Homo sapiens: one gene and its partners. The protein of the gene in region 2 purifies or fractionates together with the protein of the main gene of each other region. This does not show direct contact. Each region holds a gene or a part of one and is shown on either strand. Other genes may lie near its edges.

Evidence for each region.
Region 1: the proteins of ISG20 (region 2) and NCAM1 purify together in Homo sapiens (affinity purification with mass spectrometry; one large-scale study listed by BioGRID and IntAct). This does not show direct contact.
Region 3: the proteins of ISG20 (region 2) and ERICH5 purify together in Homo sapiens (affinity purification with mass spectrometry; one large-scale study listed by BioGRID and IntAct). This does not show direct contact.

The regions. Positions count from the first base shown.
Region 1 is NC_000011.10:113,202,277-113,205,924, reverse strand, and holds part of NCAM1 (neural cell adhesion molecule 1 isoform 2 precursor), read right to left. Parts: intron 3,547-3,648; coding exon 3,472-3,546; intron 1,640-3,471; coding exon 1,421-1,639; intron 403-1,420; coding exon 259-402; intron 1-258.
Region 2 is NC_000015.10:88,652,368-88,656,015, reverse strand, and holds part of ISG20 (interferon-stimulated gene 20 kDa protein), read right to left. Parts: intron 602-3,648; coding exon 485-601; 3' UTR 1-484.
Region 3 is NC_000008.11:98,063,224-98,067,386, reverse strand, and holds the start of ERICH5 (glutamate-rich protein 5), read right to left. Parts: upstream 2,820-4,163; 5' UTR 2,718-2,819; coding exon 2,660-2,717; intron 1-2,659.

The DNA of each region.
Region 1 (3,648 bases), on a different chromosome or scaffold from region 2:
AATAAGAAAATGCGTCCCTGGCTTTGAAATACAGCCAAGAGTAAATGTCTATTAGAAATTTGTCTTTCGTACTGGAGAGAAAATCAGGTACCTAAGTATACCAACTTCAGATATGCATCTATTCAGGACCCAGAAACCACATGAGGGTTCGGGCACACATGAATTGGAGTTTGGACTGGAATGCCTCAGTACAGGTGAAAAAGCTAGGGAACTTGGTGGCCTGGGGAAAAGGCAGATGCCAGGAAATTCAGGTCTCACCATCTTTTTTCAGGATGACATCTCGGCCTTTGTGTTTCCAGATGATGGTTGGTGGGAGGGAGCTGACCACATCACACACAATCACGGCATCTTCCCCCTCCCGGAACTCCTGTGGGGTTGGCGCATTCTTGAACATGAGCTTCTCTGGAAGATGAACAGAAGAGTGAGGGAAAACAGCTGCTTCTCTCACAAAGAACCCCTTTCACTAGAGCCATGGTACCTGGACTTGAGTCCTGGGCAAGTCTCGATCCTGATGTACAGTTGTATAAGAGGGGCACCCTCAGAGACGTCAGGCAGAGCAGCTGGCCCAAGCATAGGTTACCAATGCTTGGCAACCAATATCTGCTCATTGAGTGCTAAATTTATCACATTTTGTGCAGAAAAGGGTCTACAGAATGAAAGGAATATCTTCACCAAGGGTTCCTTGTCATGCAGGATGATGCCAGTGAAGCACAGGTTATAGGTAGAATGAACTGGTGGAACATCCATTCCACAACGAATAGTAAGAATCATCAGTCCTTTTCTTGTCTCCCACTCGAACTGCTACTCCCAGTCCCACCCCAACTTTCCTACGGCAGACAGAATGCTGATGAAAAGAACAGGAAAAAAGCACATTTAATGGCAATAAATACCGTGCAATCAATACTGTTCCATTAGCTGTCACCCACCATTACTCCAACCACTGGGATGGATGCATGATATAAATAACAAGGTAACGAGATGCCACCTACAGATGGGGTTTCAGAGGCAATAGGAACTGCCTGCTCTGAGTGGCAGAGAGTGTTCAGATAATGATCCCCCACCCCACTGAGCCCTGGGCTCCATTACCAGCAGGGGAGAGGGAAATAAGAAGGGAGAGGAGCCCAAATTGCAGAACAGTCAGCCAACATTTGGGGAAGGGATAGAGAAACCCGTAATAGCCCTCTGGGAACTATGTAATTTGAATTTTGAGAATGAACGCCTGTGGGGGAGTAGCTGTGACCAGTGTGAACCAGGGTTGTGAGTTCTGGGTTGGCCAAGGTCAGAAAAGACTTAGGGAGAGAGAATGGGACTGGTTAGGCCCTCAGCTGGTCCTTCTGTCATCATTTCCACCTTTCCACTACCCACATGTCTCCTTGGCAAGGAGAGGCCAGAGAATGCAGAAGAAGAAGGAGGCTCTTACGAAAGATCTTCACGTTGACGGTGGCCTCTGACTCACTGCCATCCTCGCCTGTAACCACACACTTGTAAATGCCGGCGTCGTCGATGTTGGCGTTATAGATGGTGAGGGTGGAGGAGGAATCATCATTCCACACCACTGAGATCCGCTGCTGGTTTGGGGTGAGCTTTTCTCCATTGGGGGAGAACCAGGAGATGTCTTTATCTTTGGCATCTCCTGCCACTAAAGAGGAAGAGATTATTTTTAAGCTACTGAAGTCGAAAAGACTAATAAGTCCCCTCCAGACTGACAGTGGCTGATCAGTAAGAGTTACTGAACAACAGATCAGTCAAGGCTTGAACATCAGGGAGGGGTGAGTATGGCTGCTGGAATGACATGCAGCCCTTCTTTGGCCTCTGCATTTAACTATTATATACTTAACACCTCTTACAATATTTGGAAAGAACTCAACAACCACTTGTACTAGTTGTTATCATGGTCCTATCCCTAATGATGGAAGAGAAGAGATACTTGTTGAGAACATACTGTGTGCTGGGCACTAAGCTAGGAACACACATGCCTCACACAACGGGTAACCAAGGGAATTAGTGTATTTAGGATTCGGGCGCCAGAGCCTAACTGGTCTGAGTCTACTGATCAGCTTGTTTTTGAAGCCTTGGATAATGGGTCTCCTGAGATGAAGGCGAGAAATACTGGCTAGTATAGGAGTGCAGATTCCAACCACTTTTTATTTCATTTTTTCCAGCCACATTTATTCTAGCATCTGCCTGCACAAACTGGCATGACTGTCATTTCGTCACTCCCTGCTCAGACAAATTCATTTCCTTGCATGCTGCAAAGAAGGTAGCCAGAACCACCCATTCTTCCTTTCCCCAGGCAGCAATGAGGAGGAACAGACTGTGGTGGCTGAGCTGCCCCCGGCACTGAGCTGGAACAGGGCTCTGACACTGAAACTGCCCAGGACACTGAGCTGGAAGGGCGCTCAGATCCGGCGGATGTGGCGGCGCCCTGCCTGTTTGCATGGGCCCCTGCCTCTTCGCGTGGCGCCCTTCTCAGCCTGCACCACCCAGCCCTGCACAGATGCTTAGTATGGAAATGAAGCAGTCTTCCTTTCAGGGCCCATCATGTTTTCAATAAATATCGCTATTTGCAAGATGTGCTGTGGGCTCCACGGCTGCGTCTCCAGATCATTGAAATTGCTGTAATGAAGGCAAAGCTGGAGTGAACACATCCGACGGCCACAAGCCACCTCGTCCACGCAAATCATGACAGCATTTAAAGGCCCCTCCCTGCCAAAAGCTGCTTGCTAAATGTCACCATTTACACCTAGCTCAGCTCTTTCCTGGTTCTTCCATGTTCTGAATCCCAGTCATGTCATATACAGAGAATCTGAGGCTTAATTTGAAACCTTTTCCTCCACAGGACATTTTCTGGCAATTATCTGGGCTGTGGAAATGGGGCATGTTTTCTAAATGTAAAACAAGGTCACCAGGTCTGGCATATCTCAGAGCTCTGGTGGGGACCATGGCACAGAATATCGATATTCACAATAGACCTGGTAAACCCAGGATATATGTCCTCACAACAAAAGCCATACCAGTATTCTATTTACCTACAGGCAAGTTTTAGACTTAGATTTTCAAGCTCTGGGGAATTCTAAGAAATAAGCCTTAAACAGATCCACCGAAGTATTGTTTCTGAGCCAGTGCTGTTCTCCATTGTCATTTACAGAACTCTGAATGTATACAGAATAGGAGATGGGGGATGATTCACTATTCTGGAAGTTGTGCTGATTTTTCTAAGAAAACTCCTAGACTTCCTCTGTAGTCAAGGTGAAGTCTAGATGACAGATTTGCTATGTTGAGGCAGATTTTTGCAAAAGGAAGGAAGAGGCCCTGGCTCTTAAATGGCCATACTATTGACCCTGTAATAGAGCAATGCCAAGAATTCTAGGTGTGGCTTGACCAGCCAGCTCACATGGCCTGAGGGCTCCTGCTCTACCCAGTGAGTTTCTGAAGCAAGTTCTAAAATGCAGCTGAGCACTAGGCACTTGCCTTGGCATAAGAAGAATTTGGACTCTCCAACGCTGATCTCCCCCTGGCTGGGAACAATATCCACCTGCAGAGAAACTGAAAAAACAAAACAAAACAAAACAAAACAAAAAACAAAAAAAAACCCACAAAGTTCAGTTCAAACGTACATTCCAATGTTCAAGAATGAAACCCAGATCT
Region 2 (3,648 bases):
GCTCAAGGTTGCCGGGGTGGCACCCTTGACATTTCCTGTACCTTTGCTTCAAAGCCCACAAATGCTGTGGCACCAACTCAAGAGGAGCTGAATGCCACCCCAGGAAATAATGCCACCTCTCTGGGCATAAATGCACCAGGAATAGGGCTGGGATGCAACAGCAAAGGGTGGGATTAGTAATTAAGCCACATGCTACTTAGATTTCCAAGCCACATTTTGGACCCACAGGATTCAAGATATTAAGGAAATTGATACTTGCCCACCTCCCCAGCATAAGACTTCATTCCCTCCTAACATCACACAGAAATGGGTCCTGTCTACTGTTAACCCAGCTTGGAGAGAAGAATAAGAAGAGGACCCAGTGATGGCGTAGAGAAAATATAGAGCCACTTTACTATTAAAAATGTATTTTCCAAAAGCAAGGTAGTTGCTGTCCCAAAAAGCCGAAAGCCTCTAGTCCCTGCGGAACGGGCTGGATGGGGCTTCAGTCTGACACAGCCAGGCGGGGCAGCCCTCGGCGGGCTCGGATTCTCTGGGAGATTTGATAGAGCTCCATCGTTGCCCTCGCATCTTCCACCGAGCTGTGTCCAAGCAGGCTGTTCTGCAGACACAAGTATAGAGTGGGGACTTGGGATGAGGCTGAATTCAGAGGCCCCGTGACAGGGTCTTCCCTGGTCACATCCCGATTTCCAGAGTCCCCAGGTGGGTCAGTGGGTGAGAGTCTCTTGAGGTCTCTGACACTCTGGACTTAGGAGACTCAGCAGGTGGCTGGAGCTGGCCTGCCTTCAGCCCTGGGGCCAGTGGCACGAAAGCCAGCCTCCTGGGAACCAGGCTGTGCCTTCAAGTCACCTGCAGTCCCGCAAGGGAGGCAGAGGCTGCAGACTTGCTGTCAGACACACGCAGTGGCTGCAGCAGCTCTAACAAGAAGCTTCAGGACACTGAGGAGGGAGTGAGGAACTCCAGCTAGGGACACAGGGAAGGGCTGCTCAGAGAGAACACAAGGGCGTCAATAAATGGAAAGGAAAGGCCGCAAGCATTTCGGAGGCAGGGAGAGCATGTGCAGCTAAAATAAGAGGCCTGCGAGGGTGGGGGCAGGGGGTGTGTGAAAGGTGGTGTGGGGACGGATGGTGGGCCTGGATTTATCACTGAAGGCCTTGAATGCCGAAGTCGGGAGCCTAGACTTTATGGGGTAGTGCTATGGGAGTCGGGGGCCCTCGGTCCATTCAAGGGAGAAGCGATGACCATTTACCATGTCTTCCGTGCACTAGGCTGAAGTTAAACCTCTGAGCTGGATATGATTATTCCCCCATTTTACTGATGATAAAACTGAGGCTCACACACAAGCCAGCCAGTTGTGCAGCTGAGATGTGGATCTTGCAGAGGCGAGTACACAGGGCAAATCCTCAGTGCAGTCACCTTTCATCTCCCTTCGCATGCCCCGCTCAGCCCTGGTGTCCTGGCCGGTACCCAGCATGGGAGCCAGCGGGCTGTTGGACCTGGCTGCGTTTTCTTGGTGTCCCTCTGTCGAGAGAGGACTTCCTGTTCTCACAGGGGCTCCTTTTCCAGGCACTCCAGACAGGGTGTTGGGGACACCTGGTTAGACGGCCCAGCTCAAAAAGGCTTTTTCTTGTTGCCGTTATTACGCTGTATTGTTTTATTTTTTAATGTTTAGTTTTATTTTTTGGCTTGGACACCCTATCATTAATCAGCAAGCAGGTAGCATGGTGGCGTCGTCTGCGCTGTGCCTCTGCATACCTGCCCCTGTCACCATCCTTGACAGATGAGGAAACTGAGGCACAGGGAGGTTATGTGTTCTACCACTCTGCTCTATGGAGAAGGAAGCCAAGAACAGAAGCAGAATGCAGCACCAGCACCCTTTATTACCAAGTGGGGAGGTAAAGAGCCCCGGATTTGGAATCAGACAAACCCCAGGCTGCAATTCCCAGCTCCCCTGCTTATGAGCTCTGTGACCGTGGGCAAGTCACTTTTCCTCTCTGGGCCTCTGTTTCCTCTTCTGTGAAATGGGCCTGATTATACCTGCCTTAAAGGATGGAATGAGAGAACTGTGCCCAGCACCCTCCACAGGGCTTCATAAATGGCAGGGTCTTTCCTTTCCTGTGCAGCCCAGTCTACCATGCGCGCAGCTTGGCAGGGAGCCACAGGCCTGCTATTTCACTCCCTCGAGGGGCAGTAACACCACTGCCCAACTGTGACAGCTCTACCATGTTAGCTCCTTGTGTCCTGTGGGTCAGTTCTGGTCACAGTGATCAGTAGCACCACTGTCCATGTGAGCGGGGGCGGGCGGGAGGGCTGGTTTCTAGGGGCATCAGTGCAGGCAGGAGCTGCCTGGTGGGGTACTGAGCTTCTGGAACAACCAGGCTTAATGAGCCCAGGGACAGAGCCTGGGAGAAGGCCCTGGGTCAGGCTTAAGGCCCCAGACTGAGAGCCACAGAGCGGCAAGGGCTCCAGGAAAAGCCCAGCCTGGCCCTTATGTGCCTTATGTGCCTTGAGGCTAACAGGCCCAGACTCAGCCCTGTTCCCTACTCCGGACATGATTCCTACAGCTCTTGCCAGCAGGCTAGGGGCGGGCTCCGTGCTCCCCAGCCCCTCCCCGAGCCTCAGGCTTTGACTCACCTGGCCCCACTCTGTATGCCTTCTTCTGCCCTCCTTGACTAAGACCCTCCAGGCTCTGTTCAGATCTGGTCTCCTGCCCTGCCAGCCCCATCCTTCATCCTGCTCCCAGGGCACTGCCCTTCCCTCCGTCACACACTCCTTACCATGTGTGCTGATGATCTGGTTAAGGGCCACCTCCCAACCAACCAAGAGCTCAGGGACAGAGACGGGTCTTGCTCACCCTGCGTCTCTAGGATCTGGCCTAGAGCAGGCAGCAGGTGTTTAATAAAGAGCTGTTGACCTGAAGGGTCCCTGTGTACAGCCCTGGCTCTTAGTGTCTGGCGCCTCTCCCTCTGCCCTTCCCACAGGGTGAACTCCCAACCCCCCATATCCGTATGCCTTTTCCTGCCTGCTTTGCCCACCAGCCAGAAGTGCTGCGGAATCAGTGCCCAGGAGCAGCAGCAGCTGGTGGCTGATGGGAACTGGTGTACAAATATCCCAGTTCCCCGGCCCCTGCTGTGAGACATATCTGAGGTGAGGTGTGTGCTTTACATCATTGCCCAGAGTTCTATGGTGGGAGCAAGCTTCACTTCCCACAGGGTAACTGGCTTGATTTCAACAACAAAAGCAAACCTTTGTTGGGTGTTTTCCCTTCCCTGCCCTCATCCTCACTCTACCAGCCAGGGACCAGGCACAGCAGGACCTACCATCAATGCCTCAGGCAAGCTGCCCTGAGGTGTGCGAGGGCATGAGGGAGGAGGAGGAAAGGGAGGGGACAGGGGAGGAGGAAGGGGAAGAAGGGGAGAAGAGCGAGGAGGTGGGGGAGGGGGAGGGGGAGGAGGAAGGGGAGGAGGGCAAAGGGGGAGGGGAAGGGGGAGGAGGGGAAGGAGGAGGGGAAGGAGGAGGGGAAGGAGGAGGGGGAGGAGGAGGGGGAGGAGGAGGGGGAGGAGGGAGGAGAAGGAGGAGGAGAAGGAGGAGGGGGAGGAGGAGGGGGAGGAGGAGGGGGAGGAGGGGGAGGAAATGGAGATGGGTGAG
Region 3 (4,163 bases), on a different chromosome or scaffold from region 2:
TCCTGGGCTCAAGCAATCCTCTCACCTCAGCCTCCTGAGTAGCTGGGACTACTGGCCTGTACCACCAAGAGTTACATTCCCTGAAATACATGTTTTAATTTTTTTACAAAAATTTTTAGATACAGGGTCTTACTATGTTTCCCAGGCTGGCCTTGAACTCCTGGCCTCAAGCAATCCTCTCATATCAGCCTCCAGAGCCATTGGGATTATAAGCATGAGCCACTGTGCCCAACAAAGCATATGAGTTCAAAGCCCAGCTCTGATTCTTAGAAGCTCTGTGACCTTGGATAAATTATTTACTCTTATCTGTAAAAACAGGACAACCATAATATTTAGTCATAACATTGTTATAAGGATTAAATGAAGTAATTCATTCAACAAATAATTACTGAGGACCTATTATATGCCAAGCGTTGTTAGGCACTGAGAGTACAGTGAATAAATGCATGTACCAGACATGTAATAAACTTGAACTGTTTTTGTCTAAAAGTATGTACACACAAGCTTGAGGTTGTATATAGGATTTAAAGAAGTTGCAAGGTGCAGAAACAGGAATGAATTATTTATCGGGCCTAAGATCATGAAGCTGAAATGTTGATGAACACAGAATAGTATCTAATTACAAGAGAGTATTGTTTGATCGAGGGTTAGAAGCAAATAGACCTGTTGATTGATTCAACGTGTGTGTTGAGCAATTTACGCCGCATATTAGGTTAATTTTCTAAGGGCTAGAACTGGCTGTCAGGCATTTTAACATCTCTTCCATAACAACACCTATGAAAACTCAGAACAGCAATGAAAGCAAGAATAAAAAATGGAAGAGTGTAACTCACGTGGAATAGTTATTAATATTGATGATAAAATATTTTTAAAGATAAAGTTATTCATTATTTTCTGAGAGGATTAAAAACTGCATTCCACCTACTGAATACTTTTGCCCCAAAGTTACATTCCCTGAAATACATGTTTTAATCAGTTTAAAACTATGTAATGGTGACTCAGTACTCTGCTTGTTAAACCAGGATGCTACTCCTAGGATAACTGAAGCACAGCATGGGGTAGAGAAGTCAGAATAATAAAATGTATCTTCCTGAAGCATCTGTTTTCCCTCGGCTTTTCATATTGAAACCCACAAAAATCTATCATAGAACAGAATGCAAAACTCTACTTAATTTCATAACATAAAACACGAAACATCGAAACATCGGAGAAACTCCTTGCTCTGTCCTCTTGTTGCAGGTATGGAAGCTCTGGGTTCTTTAGGAGAAAAGTTAGTGAGCACTGTGCATTAGAAATGAATTTTTCCATCTTTTCACATTGTTGTCAGTGAGAAGGGGTTTACTTTTATAATGCTTTTAATTTTTTGTTTACTTCCTGACTTGTCATTGCTTTCCGTTATCTATGGAAACTAGAAATAAATTCTCATACACCACAAAAATAACAGCAACACAACATATTTCTGACTAGGACACAGCGGCTGAGCTTTGAAAAGCATTCCTCACCGTCTGGTGCGCTCTACCAACAACATCAGAGGAAGACATTTCTGTTACTGCAATAACACAAGGTGCTAAGAGAAAATCTGTGAAAAGGAATTCACTCCAGTACAAAATCCCCGCTAAAGTTCGCCTTGCAGAAGACTGTAAACTAGCTTGACGGAGTTTGCTTAACCTCCATAGCATTGTCCAAAATTTTAGCCATTCAAAATCTAAGAAAAGTGAGTCGGCTGTAAAACCCTGTCATTCTCTAATTCATGTAACTGCGTTTATACTTTTCACAGTACTTATCACTGTCAGAAACGATCTTAGCCAATTGTTTCACGTGTTTCTTTTCTGTCTCTTCTATCTTCAATCTCTACAAACAGGGTCACTTGTATCTCCAGCATCTAGCCAAGCACTGGGGTATTATATAGCAGATGCTCAAAATGTCCTTGTTGAGTTTCTTCAGCAAGAGTCAGTGATGACCACTTTTGATCACACATACTTCTCAACTGATACTTAAGCCGAAGATAGGGGAAAGTGTGTCTGACCTATTCAGAGTGCAGGGACCCATTTGATGGAGTGAATGCTCCTCTGGATTCTCCGCATCTTTTGCCATCTTTGATGCTGAAACGCTAATGGGAGGGTAAATGGGGAAAAGTCTTTTTTGTTGGTGTTTTAGTAGAGACGGGGGAGCGGAAGATCTCGCTTTGTTACCCAGGTTTTTCTCGAACTTCTGGTCTCAAGAGATCGTCCCGCCTCAGCCTCCCAAAGTGCTGAGATTGCAGTCGTCAGCCACCGCCCCCAGCCTTGGTAGAAGGCCTTGATAGGACATTTCTCCTGTGTTTAAGGCAATGCCGAGGCTAACCGCCTTAGGGCCTCAACACCAACTCCCCGAGATCCCATCAGCGGACAGGGTGAATCCAGCGCCCGGCCTCGGGCCCCGCGCGTCTCGCAGCGAGCGCCGCGGAGCGCACCAGGGCCGCCGCACCCGCGGTCACAGCAGCGCCGCTCCAGATTTGGAAGGAAATCGCGCTTTGTCCCGGGTTCTGCTCGCATCCTCCGGGACAAGGCCCGGCTCCTGCCAGGCGGGGTGGCCACGGGACACACCCTTTGGACCTCCTGGGGAGTTAGCCCACCCGAGTCCCCAGCCCGGGCGCGGGCGGCGCCGGTACCCTGCTCACCGCTGGGGAACCTGCTGCTGTCGCCGGCCTTGTTGAGGGCGCTGCTGGAGCAGCCCATTGCGGGGAGCGCAGACACCTGTCTCAGCCCTGCGCGGGTGTCGGCCCGGAACCGGGAACCGAAGGCAACTGCACCCGTAGCCGCGGAAGTTTCTCCAGCTCTGCAGCCCGGCTCCCTTGGGCGTAGAGCGCAAGCGCGCAGCGGGGCTAATGGTAGGGGGTGCGCACCTGGAGGAGGAAGGGAGCTGGCAGGAGGTGGAAGGAGCCTGGGAGCGCAAAGCGGAAGAGAGCGGGAGGGCCAGGACGCAGAGGAGGGCAGGGAGGAGTAGAGCCCAGGAGACAGGAGGGGAGACGGTGGAGGGTATGGCACAGTAAGAGAGGAAAAGCCCCTAAAGCAGGGATAGGGAGGATGTCAGGGGGCGAGGGCGAAGCGCTGGGAGGTATCATCTGACTCATCACTAAATAGCCAGGGAGGCGAGGCGGCCTTGGGACTAGGGGCTATTGATTGGTAGACTAGATGTGCGATGACAGTCTTATTTTCTTACATAACTACAATTACCACAAGGAAGTTTAACTTTGATACAGTACGATTTAATCCACCCTCCATGTTCCCTTTTTGCCAATTGTCCAATCCAGGACTGCACGTTGCATTTAGTTGTGTCTCTCTTTAGTTTGCTTTAATCTGAAGTAGTTCCTCCAGTCTTGCTTTGTCGTTATGACTTTGACATTTATTAAGAGAATAGATTTTTTTTTTTTTTTGAAACCGAGTCTCTCTCTGTTGCCCAGGCTGGAGTGTAGTGGCGCAATCTCGGCTCACTGCAACCTCTGCCTCCCGGGTTCAAGCGATTCTCCAGCCTCAGCCTCCAGAGCAGCTGGGATTACAGGCGCCTGCCACCGTGCCCAGCTAATTTTTGTAATTTTAGTAGAGACGGGGTTTCACCATATTGGTCAGGCTGGTTTCGAACTCCTGACCTCAGGTGATCCACCCGCTTCGGCCTCTCAAAGTGCTGGGATTACAGGCATGAGCCACTGCGCTCGGCCTTTTTTTTTTTTTTTTTTTTTCCGGAGATGGAGTCTCACTGTGTCACCAAGACTGGAGTGTAGTGGCGAGATCTCAGCTCACTGCAACCTCCACCTCCCTGGTTCAAGAAACTCTCCCTGCTTCAGCCTCCTGAGTAGCTGGAATTACAGGCATGCGCCACCACGTCTGGCTATTTTTTGTATTTTTTAGTAGAGACGGCGTTTCACCATGTTGGCCAGGCTGGTCTTGAACTCCTGATCGCAGGTGATCCGCCCGCGTGGGACTCCCAAAGTGCTGGGATTACACATGTCAGCCACCGCACCCGGTGAGAACAGGCTTTTTTTTTTTTTAATTTGAGACACGGTTTCATTCTTGTTGCCCAGGCTGGAGTGCAATGGCACAATCTCAGCTCACCACAACTTTCGCCTCCTGGGTTCAAGCAATTCTCCTGCCTAAGCCTCCTGAGTAGCTGGGATTACATGCATG